Linked DNA regions of Homo sapiens. The protein of the gene in region 2 interacts with the protein of the main gene of each other region in a pairwise test. Each region holds a gene or a part of one and is shown on either strand. Other genes may lie near its edges.

Region 1 (3,768 bases), on a different chromosome or scaffold from region 2:
CACCTGTGGTCCCAGCTCCTTGTGAGAGAGGCTGAGGTGGGAGGATTGCTTAAGCCCAGGAGTTTGAGGCTGCAGTGAGCTGAGATTGCACCACTGCACTTCAGCCTGGGTGACAGAGTGAGACCCTGTCTCAAAAAAAAAGAAGAAAATACTACATATATGCCTACTGTATGGAGGCACACTGCTAGGGATTCAGTGGATGACAGAGAGTTGTAAGGACTGGGGTAGTGGGTGGGCAGTGGTCAGACAGTTGGATGCTTACGTTTAAGAAGTCAGACCAGGGAGATGATACCAAAATCCATGGAGTAGGTGGTTGAAGGGGAGAAGATGATCACTGGAGTTGAGGGGGTCAGGGGACTGTGAGGCCAGAGTATTGGTTGGATCATTCACATAAACAGTGAAATCACTCAGGATGGCAGCAAGAGTTGGAGAAGAAAGGAGCACTTGGCTCAAGTGCCAGATTCTTCCCTGAGTATAAGGATGAAAGTGTCATGCCCACAGCCACCTTGCTGGAACAAGGCCCACAGGAACTCACAGGCACCTATCTTCTCCCCCATCTTTGGAGGTGCTACTGTAGAACTTTTCCCTCCAGGAAATCCTCACCCATTCCATGCCCTCACAGCAGCAGAGCTGGGTCAGGATTAGGGTCAGTACCTTGAGAACAACTGGAAAAGCCTCGCCATGACCTCCTCCTCTCCTCTTGTAGGCAGTAAGTCTTTATTCGTCAGAGAATAGGAATTAAGAAAGAAAGTTTCCTCCAGAGCTAGATAGCTCCTTGGTTGCGGCCAGCAAGCGAGGCTTGTTTGGGAGTTGCGGAGGACTTCTTCACTGGAAGTGGGGTGCCTCAGTGAGGCCAAGGCAGAGTAGGAGAAGAGCAAAGATAGCATTTCCTAAAGGTGGAAGGCGATGAGGACACAGGCAGTTTGACTTCTTGGAAAGGGCTCAGTAGTGGGCTGGGACAGTATCCAGGGCTTCCTCAGGTTCCCGGGTGATGTCCACATTCTGAGGAGAGAGCGCAGGATTAATAGGAAGGAGACAGCAGTGCAGGGCCCCAACCTCTCCCCTGCCTCTTGTCTTCATTGCCAGGCTCCCCTCTTTCAGCCAGGCCCGGATCCTGACCCTCAGGTAGGCCTGGGGGAATCTCAGCCTGAGGCCTTTTAGGCGGGAATTGCCCCAGCCTTGCATCTCCATGGTGCCTCGTGTCTGGGTTGTGGTTTCTGCATTTCTGGGTGCTGTTTGCTCCATCTGTTGGTGCAAAACACCCAGGCTTGGTGGGGTTGGGGCAGCCTTTCTGTGGATAAGGTGCTTTCACCATGTGCTGTGTCCACAGCCAGCTTGGGCCATGGAGTCCCCCACCTACCTCAGGCTTCTCCCGGTGTGTGTTCACGGCCTCCACATTCAGGTAGATGGATTCCACTTTGCAGCCTTAGAAAAGAACAATCCATCTGTCCATAGGCCCCCAAGGTAGGCACAGGTCTTCCCTGAGGTATCACCTCCCCTCCCCCATCACCAGCCACACCCCCAGCTTCATACTGTGTACAGATCATGACTCGCCTGTATGGAGGAGAATTTAGACAGCTATGTGATGTGTGGGGAAGACACCAGGCCTAAGAGGCAGCCAACAGGGTATCCTGTCACCTCTGCCCCTAACAGTCTTAGTTCGCTGAGCTTCAGGTGCTCATTTGTAAATGGGGATGGAGATGAGAGATGAACTCTGGCTGCCCACAGCTCTTGAGGTCCGCAGGACAGCAGTCTCATCTATGTAATATTGATGTAGCTCTGCGGATCCTCCAAGCCGTGTTAGGTGGTGAAGAGGTGGAAGAGTCCTGGGGCCACTGCCTTGGGCGATCAGTGCCAGGCAAAGTTTATCTGGAGGACAATGTGGTTGTGGCAACACCAGGAGTATGGAAGTTCACCTGGGAGTTTTAGGAAACCTGAAGACGGATGAGGGTGCATCATTGGGGCTTGGGGCTGACAGAGGGGGCCTAATGCCTGTGGAAGCTCCCTTAGCTTCATCCCTGTGGACTGCACCTTACTCCAGGCTTCAGTAGGTCATCTGCCCTGTTCGCACCCCAGAATAGATTTGATTCTGTCCCTCCCCTGTTCATGAACCTTTCATAGCTAATGTCCCAAGAAAGACCCTAAACTGCCCAGGCTGGTCTTTGTGCTCTTTCTCCAATACGGCCCTAACCTATAATTTTCCTCTGGTCCCCTTTGGGGAATCCCCCTTCCACAGCTTGGTGCTCTGTGCTGGGTGCTCTGGCAAAGACACAGAGTCAGAGCCAGCCCCAGATTTAGAAACCATCCTACTCTTTCCCTGTTATCCTACTACCATCAGTCCCACCCCCACCACCCACTAAGGGAACCTCCTGCAGGACACCCACCCAGGAAACCTCCTGCAGGACTCTTCTGGGCAAATGGTAGGCACTAGGGCCATGCTCATAGCCTCTATATGCCTGTCCTTTGATCAGGGTGGGAGTACTTACCATAAGCCACAGGAGTGAGTTTGAGCACTGTGTGCAGAGGGCACTTGAGATATGGAAGCTCATCTAGAAAGGAACAGGAAGCAGCCCTCAGAGGCAGGGTGCTGGCCAGGACACAGCCTCCCCAGGCCCCCAGGCTTGCTGGATGCTCCCCATTCCATGTCCCCTTGCCGTGGTGGGGCCTCACCAGGGGCCCACTCCCCACACCCTGCAGGGGCAGCACTGAGAGCACCTGGGAAGAGAGGAGGAGAGCAGGGAGGCAGGAATGCCTTGGAAAATGGTGGTAGACTGGACTGGGTGTCCTGCAGGAGGGTTGGGCCGGCCACCCTGGAGACGGCCACCACCTCACTCACAGGACAAATGAGACCCAGGCAGGCTTCTCTCCCGCCCCAAGCCTGGGGCCTTCAGCAGACCCCACACCACAAAGGCCCACAGTTCACGTCAGCAAGTGTTTTTTGAGACCCTGCTGTGGCAGTGGACAGCTCCCACAGCCTTCTCCCAGCCTGGCCCGCTCCCTCTGATCATCCCTGCCTCAGGCCTGGTGATGGACAAGCATTTGTGCATTCACTTGTTTCCAGTTATTGACATTATGCATAAAGTTGTTCTGAATATTCATATGCATTCTTGTCTGGGTCTATGTTTCCATTTCTCAGGCAAGCCCAAGAGGTGGGGACAGTAAGCCCATTTCATGGTCTCAGCCAACTGAGGCCTTGAGAGGGAAAATGCTCTCCGCAAGTCACACAGCCAGGAAGCAGCAGAGCAAGGCCTTGAACCTGGGACCCTGTGAGGCCAGAATGCATGCACTGGCCCCTACTGTCAACTGCCCCTGCCATCCAGGGGCTTGCAGTGTCCTGGGGGTGATAAACCCACCTGCTAGGCACTCTCTCCTGACACCCACTTTCCTGCCCACCTGCACATAACGCTACCCATTTCCCTTCATTTTGCAGGATCACCGACCCTCATGGCTTCCCTCAACAGCAGGTTCCACCCTAGGTTTCTGAGGTCTGCCACTGCCCTCCCAGCCTCCTGAGACATTAGGTTGGCTTTTTTCCTTCCTGGGCATCCATCCTGCTGCTCCTCCTTGTTTTTGTCATCATCAGGCCCTGGGCCAAGGGTGTTTTGCCCACTACCTCATGACACCCTTAAAGCTAGATTGAGGTACTACTGTACACCCTCCTTGTACACTTGAGGAAACAGACTCGGAGAAGGGAAGTGACTTGCCTGAGATCTCTGACCCAGCTCTGCCACTGCCTCCACTAATGACCTTGGCCCGGGCTCTTCTCTC
Region 2 (7,217 bases):
GAACTAAGTATAAAAGAAAACATAATAAATTATACTTTCTCTTAATTATAAACTTCTGCACATTAAAAAAATTAAGAAAATTAAAAGGCAAGACATAGATTGGGAAGAACTGTTTGCAAGACATATATTTAAAAATTGGATTATCTAAAAATTTAACTTTATAAAGTTAAATTCTAAAATACCCAATGGTATTGACATTTTAAATAATTACCTAAAAAAATGAAAGTATATGTCCACAAAAAGTCATTTACAAATGTTTACAGTAGCTTTACTCATAGTAGTGAAAAACTGGAAATAACATAAATATACATCAATGGATAAATGAATACAAAATTATAGCATATTCATACAATAGAATATTGTTTCACAATACAAATGAACAAACTACTAATATACACTACATGGATCCCTTTGAATAATGTGCTGCCGAAAAAGTCAAATGCTAAAGAAGTATAGGTACTTAATTATTCCATTTCTATGAATAAGCAAAGCTAATCTGTAGTGACAGAAAGTATATCAGTTATTGTTTGGTGGGTAGGTGCATGAAAGGAAAATTGACTACAAAGGTTAATGGACGTTTTCTTATATTTACGTCTTTGTTGGTTCATGGATATAATCATTTGTCAAAACTCATCAAATTTTGTACTTAAAATGGGTGCATTTTATTATATGTGAGTTATACATCAATGAAAAAGACATTAAAAAGAAAAAATGTTAAATGGGTAAAAGGTATGAATAGATAATTTTTAAAAAGATACAAATCTCCAAGAAGTTCATGAAAAGTACTCCATTAGTCATCAGGAATATGCAAATTATGACCACTGTGACATATTATTCCATATTTATTACAAATATCTACCCTATCACTCATTAGTTTCACTCCTGGGTCCGAATCCAGAATAAATAAAAACATATATCTAATAAGACTTGTGCAGGCTTCTTTTTTTTTCCCCACATATAAGTGAGATCACATAGTGTTTGTCTTTCCTTATCTGGCTTATTTCACTTAGTATAATGTCCTCAAGTTTCACCCATGTTGTTGAAAATAGCAGTATTTTCTTCTTTTTTAAGGTTCAATAATATTCTATTGTATGTTTATACCACATTTTCTTTATCCATTTATCTGTTGATAGATAATTTGTTACCACATATGGACCATTGTTAATAATGCTGCAATGAACAAGGAAGTGTAGATATCTCTTTAATATACTAATTTCATTTTCTTTGGATATATACCCAGCAGTGGGATTGCTAGATCAGATGGTAGTTCTCCTTTTAACTTTTTGAGGAACTTCCATATTGTTTTCCATAATCCATAATGGCTGTATTAAATTACAATCCCACAAACAGTGTATAAGGGTTCCCATTTCTCCACATTCTCACCAACACTTGTTATCTTTTATCTTTTTAACAGCCATTCTCACAAATGTATGGTAATATCTCCTTGTGATTTTTATTTGCATTTCCCTAATGATTAGTGATGGTGAGCATCTTCATATACCTACCTGTTGAGTGCAATAATGGTTACCATGAGTGGAGGATGAGACGAAGGGAAGATAGGCAAAGGGTACAAACCTTCAGCTATAAGATGAGTAAATGCTAGAAACCTAATGTACAGCATTGTGATTATAATTAAGAATTATTATAATTAATAATAATTGAAATGTGTTAAGATAGTAGATCTCAAGCATTCTCACCACAGCCAAAAAAAGGTAACTATGTGATATGATGAATACTTCAATTAGCTTGATTGTGGTAATCATTTCACAATGTCTACATATGTCAACACATTTCATGAGAAACCCCAAATACATGTGATTTTTATTTGTCAGTCATACCTCAATAAAGCTGGAAAAAAGTTAGACATAAAAAATAAAATTAGGAGAAAAATACTTTGTGGAAGAATCTTTATAGCTGCTTTAGCTATAAGAGGACCAAACTAGAAACAAACAAACTACCAATCAATGTAATAAACAAATGTAAAATAAGCATATAATGCAATTATACTTACCTTTAAAAAGAATTGTACTACTGACTTAAAAACCCACATTGAAATGCTTGAAAAAACATTCTGCTGAGCCAGAGACGTCAGTCTGACAATATAATATATATGGTATCATTCTATTCATATAAAGTTCATGAATGGCCAACTATTCTTTGAGGACAGAAATCAAAACAGTGGCCCCCTGTGGAGGGAAGATTGGCTGGAAAGGATGTGAGGAAACATTCCAGGGTGAAATAAATGTCCCGTGCCCTGACTGAGGTGACCATGACATGGTTGTATATACCTGTTAAACTCATTGATTTTAGAAACTTGAATTTAAGAACTCAAGATTGGTTACAATTTACTCCATGTTGATTTTATCTCAAATAATTAAAAAAAAAGCCAAGACAACTGAGTAATTATAGCCTTTAATACCCCTTTTCTTTCATGGATAATCTGGCTAATAAACATATAGTTCTGAATTAATGTTAAAACCTGACTTCATCTACTTTTCTTTGAAGAAAGTTATTTTAAAAATCATTCTTTTAAATACAATTTTATTATTTTTTAGGTATTAGAACATCTAATCCATAGTTCACTCATCATTGTCAGCATCCAAAGAAGTAAAATGACATTTATTGTTTTGTTTAGTAATACTTGAGATTTTTCACTTAAGAACTAATTATTATTATTATCGTCATTTGTATTTCTTCCCAATAGCAAGGAAATATTTACTGAATACTGGTGAGAAGCCAATGGAAGAGAACAAGAATATCTAAGAGAAGCAGTTGTTATTAGTTGAAAGGTTTAAGACCTACCAGACAACAGAGAATGCACACACCCTGCGAGAGCCTCACCTTGTGACATTTGTTCTTTACCTTTTTATTTTGCCTTTTAGCATGGCATGCTGAGCACCTCTGAGTTTTCAGGGAAGGAGCTGACAGAAACAGGAACAGAATAGCTGGGAGCTCCAAGATTCACATTCCTTGCAGGAGCTGGTGTGAGTTTTTGAGGCTGCTGAGTAACAGGAACCGCAGTCTTTGTTGCCTGGATGTATCCTGGCAACCTGTCAACAAAAGGGACGGGACTGAGTTCTCTAGTAACTGATGGGAAACAGAGCAAAGTAGGTATGGATTTCAGCTTTCTTTTAAATTGACTCCAGGAACTTTACCGATGGACTGAGCAACCAACAGGGACAGATAAATTTAAGTCACAGGCTCTTCTTGATGTAGAAACACAGCGTTTTATTTTAAAGAAGAAAAGAAAACAATATTTACTGATTATCTTATTGATCTTTTCTAGGGACTTTAAAAAATACTGTAACGGTTAATATTGAGTGTCAACTTGATTGGATTGAAGGATGCAAAGTATTGTTCCTGGGTGTGTCTGTGAGGGTGTTGCCAAAGGAGATTAACATTCCAGTCAGTGGACTGGGAAAGGCAGACCCACCCTCAATCTGGGTGGGCACCATCTAATCAGCTGCCAGTGTGGCCAGAATAAAGCAGGAAAATGTGGAAGGACTTGACTTGCTGAGTCTTCTGGTCTTCAGCTTTCTCCCATGCTGGATGCTTCCTGCCTTAGAGCATTGGACTCCAGGTCTTCAGCTTTTGGACTCTCGGACTTACACCAGTGGTTTGCCAGGGGCTCTCAGGCCTTTGGACACAGACTGAAGGCTGCACTGTCGGCTTCCCTACTTTTGAGGTTTTGGGCTTCCCTACTCCTCAGCTTGCAGATGGCCTATTGTGGAACTTTACCCTGTGATCATGTGAGTCAATACATTTTAATAAACTTCCCATCATATACACATCTATTCTATTAGTTCTGTCCCTCTAGAGAACCCTGACTAATACTAATACCATCTATATAGAAGAGCTTGGGCCAGTCGCAGTGGCTCACACCTGTAATCCCAACACTTTGGGAAGCTGAGGCGGGTGGATCACCTGAGGTCAGGAGTTCAAGACCAGCGTGGTCAACATGGTGAAACCCAGTCTGTACTAACAATACAAAAATTAGCCGGGCATGGTGGCACACACCTGTAATCCGAGCTACTTGGGAGGCTGAGGCAGGATAATCGCTTGAACTCGAGAGGTGTAGGTTGCAGTGAGCCAAGATAGCGCCGTTGCACTCCAGCCTGAGCAACAAGAGCGAAACTCCATCTCAAAAAAAAAAAAAAAAAAAAAAAAAAAGAAGAAGAAGAAGAGCTTGGTCTCCTCTAAAACAGGGAAGATGGATAGTCTCCATGGCTCTCAAAGCATGTTCTATGTTTTGGTCTAAAAGGCAAGCAACCACAAGATGTAGAAGCTATGCTTAATCTATTTTTCTAACATGTCCTAAAACATAGAAAATATTTTAAAAACTAAGGCCAGTATTTAAAAATATATCTGAAGCAGTGTTTTCAAGATTCGTATTTCAAAATACTCTGAGATATTAAGATAATTGTAGTACAATTCTACAATTAAATATTCTGCAAGCATTAAAGCTTATGAGGCAACAGTTTATTGACCTGGGAAAAAGTTTACAATATATTGCTAAATGAAAAAGAGAAGCTACAAAACAGAATAAATAGTATAATCTCATCAAATTCTTTGTGTGTGCTCATGTGCACACAAACACACAATTAACTCAAAGAATATACATCCCAGTGTTAACAGTGGCTACCTATGAGTGGTGAGATTAAGGAACATTTTTACTGAATGTTCCTTACTGGTTAGCAAAAAAAAAAAAAAAAAGAACAAAAACTTGACCTCTAATATTCCCCAGCCCTGCTCCTTGTCCCCAGATAATGTAATTGGGATATGGAGGTAATTCACAGGACTCTTAATTCTGCTGAAGTGACTCTTCAGGCCACACAGTCTAGAGATCCCAAGGGACAGTAACGTTTCACATCCTAACTTGCAATAACGCTCTAACTATTCTAGATATCTAATTTATGATATAAAATATTTCTAATTAAGATGCTTCTGAAATCATACGATACATATACAAATAATAATACATGCATACAATGACATAGAGCTGATATAATATCAGTGAGTAAATGTTGAGATGGCGGCAAGAAAACCCTGTTTTACCTGTTGCCTTTTACTGACCTGTAGGCCCCTAGTTAACACACTTTTCACTTTACACAAACTGCATGTTTTATCGGCCTTATTGTGAACTAAATGTGATCTTTCTCTAAAGAAAGTGCCCAATAAATAAACATCATCCCAAATGCACACCCAATATTCAGTCCAGTGGCTGGCTATTTGGGCCAGATGGCAGAAGAGACAGGAAGTGTTGGCCTATGACAGGACAACCTCAGGAAAACATCACGAGAGTGGATATTTCTGAGCTAAAGCAGGGCAGAGTCTCTATCCTGGCTGGAGCAACTCTTAGGAGGCCCAAGAATAACAGAGCTTGCAGGCTTTGTTAGCTGTAGCTGATGGTGCACTCACGGCCGTCTCTTCCCTGGTGCTGTGGCTGAGTTGCCAGCTGCTTTTCTGTATTCATCGAAGCTGCTTCTAAAACTGGCTGGAGTGGAGCCTTTGTTTCTTCCCAAATTCTGGACTCATTTTTAATTCATGGGTTTATAGTTTCAGTCAGAATTGAACTTCCTGGTGTTCAAATGTATTTCATCTTGGCAAAACAGGCGTTCCTGGGTGCTCTGTCTCTGTCTCCTTCTCCCTGTCTCTGTGTCTCTCTGGTCTTTCCGAGCGACCAAAACTTTTAAGCTGCTCGTATTTTTTTTTTTTTTTAAGCATGCGCAGAGGCATCTTCGACATCAAAAAGCTCTTACAACACACAACCTTTTGAAGATTTAAGTGTAAATGAAGCAGAAACATATGGATTCTATTTTCCATAAATCACATACGGTCCTAAAAAATCAAGGAGGGTATGTGTTTTGCATGATGTATTCTGTTTAGTTGAACCCAAAACATCTGAGGCATACTTGGAGGTTGATGAATCCAAAATATTTACCCATCCCTATTTATAACATTGTGGGGGAGCCCTTGATTTATGGTGACAACTAAACTGCTCACATCTGTTGAGTGGGCAACCAGCAACCAGTGTGAGCTTCAAAGATAACCGTGTTCCTTCTTCTGTTCTGACTCCAGGCATTCAAGTCAGACCCAGATCAAAGACACTGAAGCCTTTACTTGAGCTGGTCTGGTTTGCTCTTGCTTGAGCTTTTCTCACCTAAAACAATTGCCAGTTATTTCAAGTTATGTGATATCCAATCATGCTTGTGTCACTGTGGGATGATGCCAGCCTCCAGCAATAATCCAGATCTGACCCCTTGTGGGAGCAGCCCCACCACAAGGAATTCTGGATTATTTTCCCTTCATAAAACCACAGCTGTTGTGCCTGCACAAGCCCCTGACTTTTTCATTGAAGGAATGAATCACATTTTCATGGAGCAGGAGAAATGCTTCTCCTTGTTGGTATCTCTGCCTATCCTCAAGACTCTTCACTGATGCAAAGCCCAAATCTTACTTTGCAAGCTACCAATAATCCTTTGGAGTTTATTTAAACTTGGCAGAGACTACATTCTGTGAGAAAAAAAAATTGCAATGGCAGCAGCAGGGATCCAAACAGGATGTTTGTGAAGTCTGGCAAAATAGGTGCACTGAGTGCCTTGTTCTTGTCTACCTAATTATTGTTTACTTCATTCTTATCGCCTAACTCCGAAACAGCAAGTTCCAGCCACCTGACATCCGTTATCTCAAATCTTTTAACCATCCTACAAGGTAGGCATTAGTATCCTTGTTTGACAGATTAGAAAACTGAGGCTCAAGAGCATTAAGCAACTTGCCCCATTGACAAGGCTATTCCAAAGCAAATCTGGGATGGACATGTGTATCTTTCTGGTGCCCAAATGGCTTCCCTTCGCTGCCTTCTGCTAGATCTTGCTGCCATATTCCCATACCCAATAAATAATATTTTCTATGACTTGCCCAGACTGAGTAAACATTTAAAACCTAGACCTTCATGTCTCCGAAACAGGAGGCTTGAAGAAACACTGAAGAAACATTATATATAACACTGAAGAAACATTCCCTGTCCATAGGAAGGGAGATCAAAAGACAGAAATCCTTCTATCTGTCCTGGCAATGTTTTTATTATGAGTCTGACCTCAAAAGAGAGAGTCATTTTTCAAATACGCCTTTTGTCACAAGAACAGGCTTTGTATAAACTGAGTTTTATATACTGTACTAGACTGAACTGTAAAATGTCTACATTTAAAATAGTGCAA

Evidence for each region. The genes of interacting proteins can lie anywhere in the genome.
Region 1: the proteins of ZNF474 (region 2) and PFKFB1 interact in binary tests that used the Homo sapiens proteins (3 or more experiments, as listed by UniProt).

What each region holds. Positions count from the first base shown.
Region 1 is NC_000023.11:54,932,461-54,936,228, forward strand, and holds the end of PFKFB1 (6-phosphofructo-2-kinase/fructose-2,6-bisphosphatase 1), read right to left. Parts: exon of another isoform or gene 2,557-3,768; intron 2,550-2,556; coding exon 2,487-2,549; intron 1,426-2,486; coding exon 1,361-1,425; intron 1,003-1,360; coding exon 943-1,002; 3' UTR 501-942; downstream 1-500. UniProt on the Homo sapiens protein: Synthesis and degradation of fructose 2,6-bisphosphate.
Region 2 is NC_000005.10:122,125,329-122,132,545, reverse strand, and holds the start of ZNF474 (zinc finger protein 474), read right to left. Parts: upstream 3,001-7,217; 5' UTR 2,863-3,000; exon of another isoform or gene 2,705-2,862; intron 1-2,704.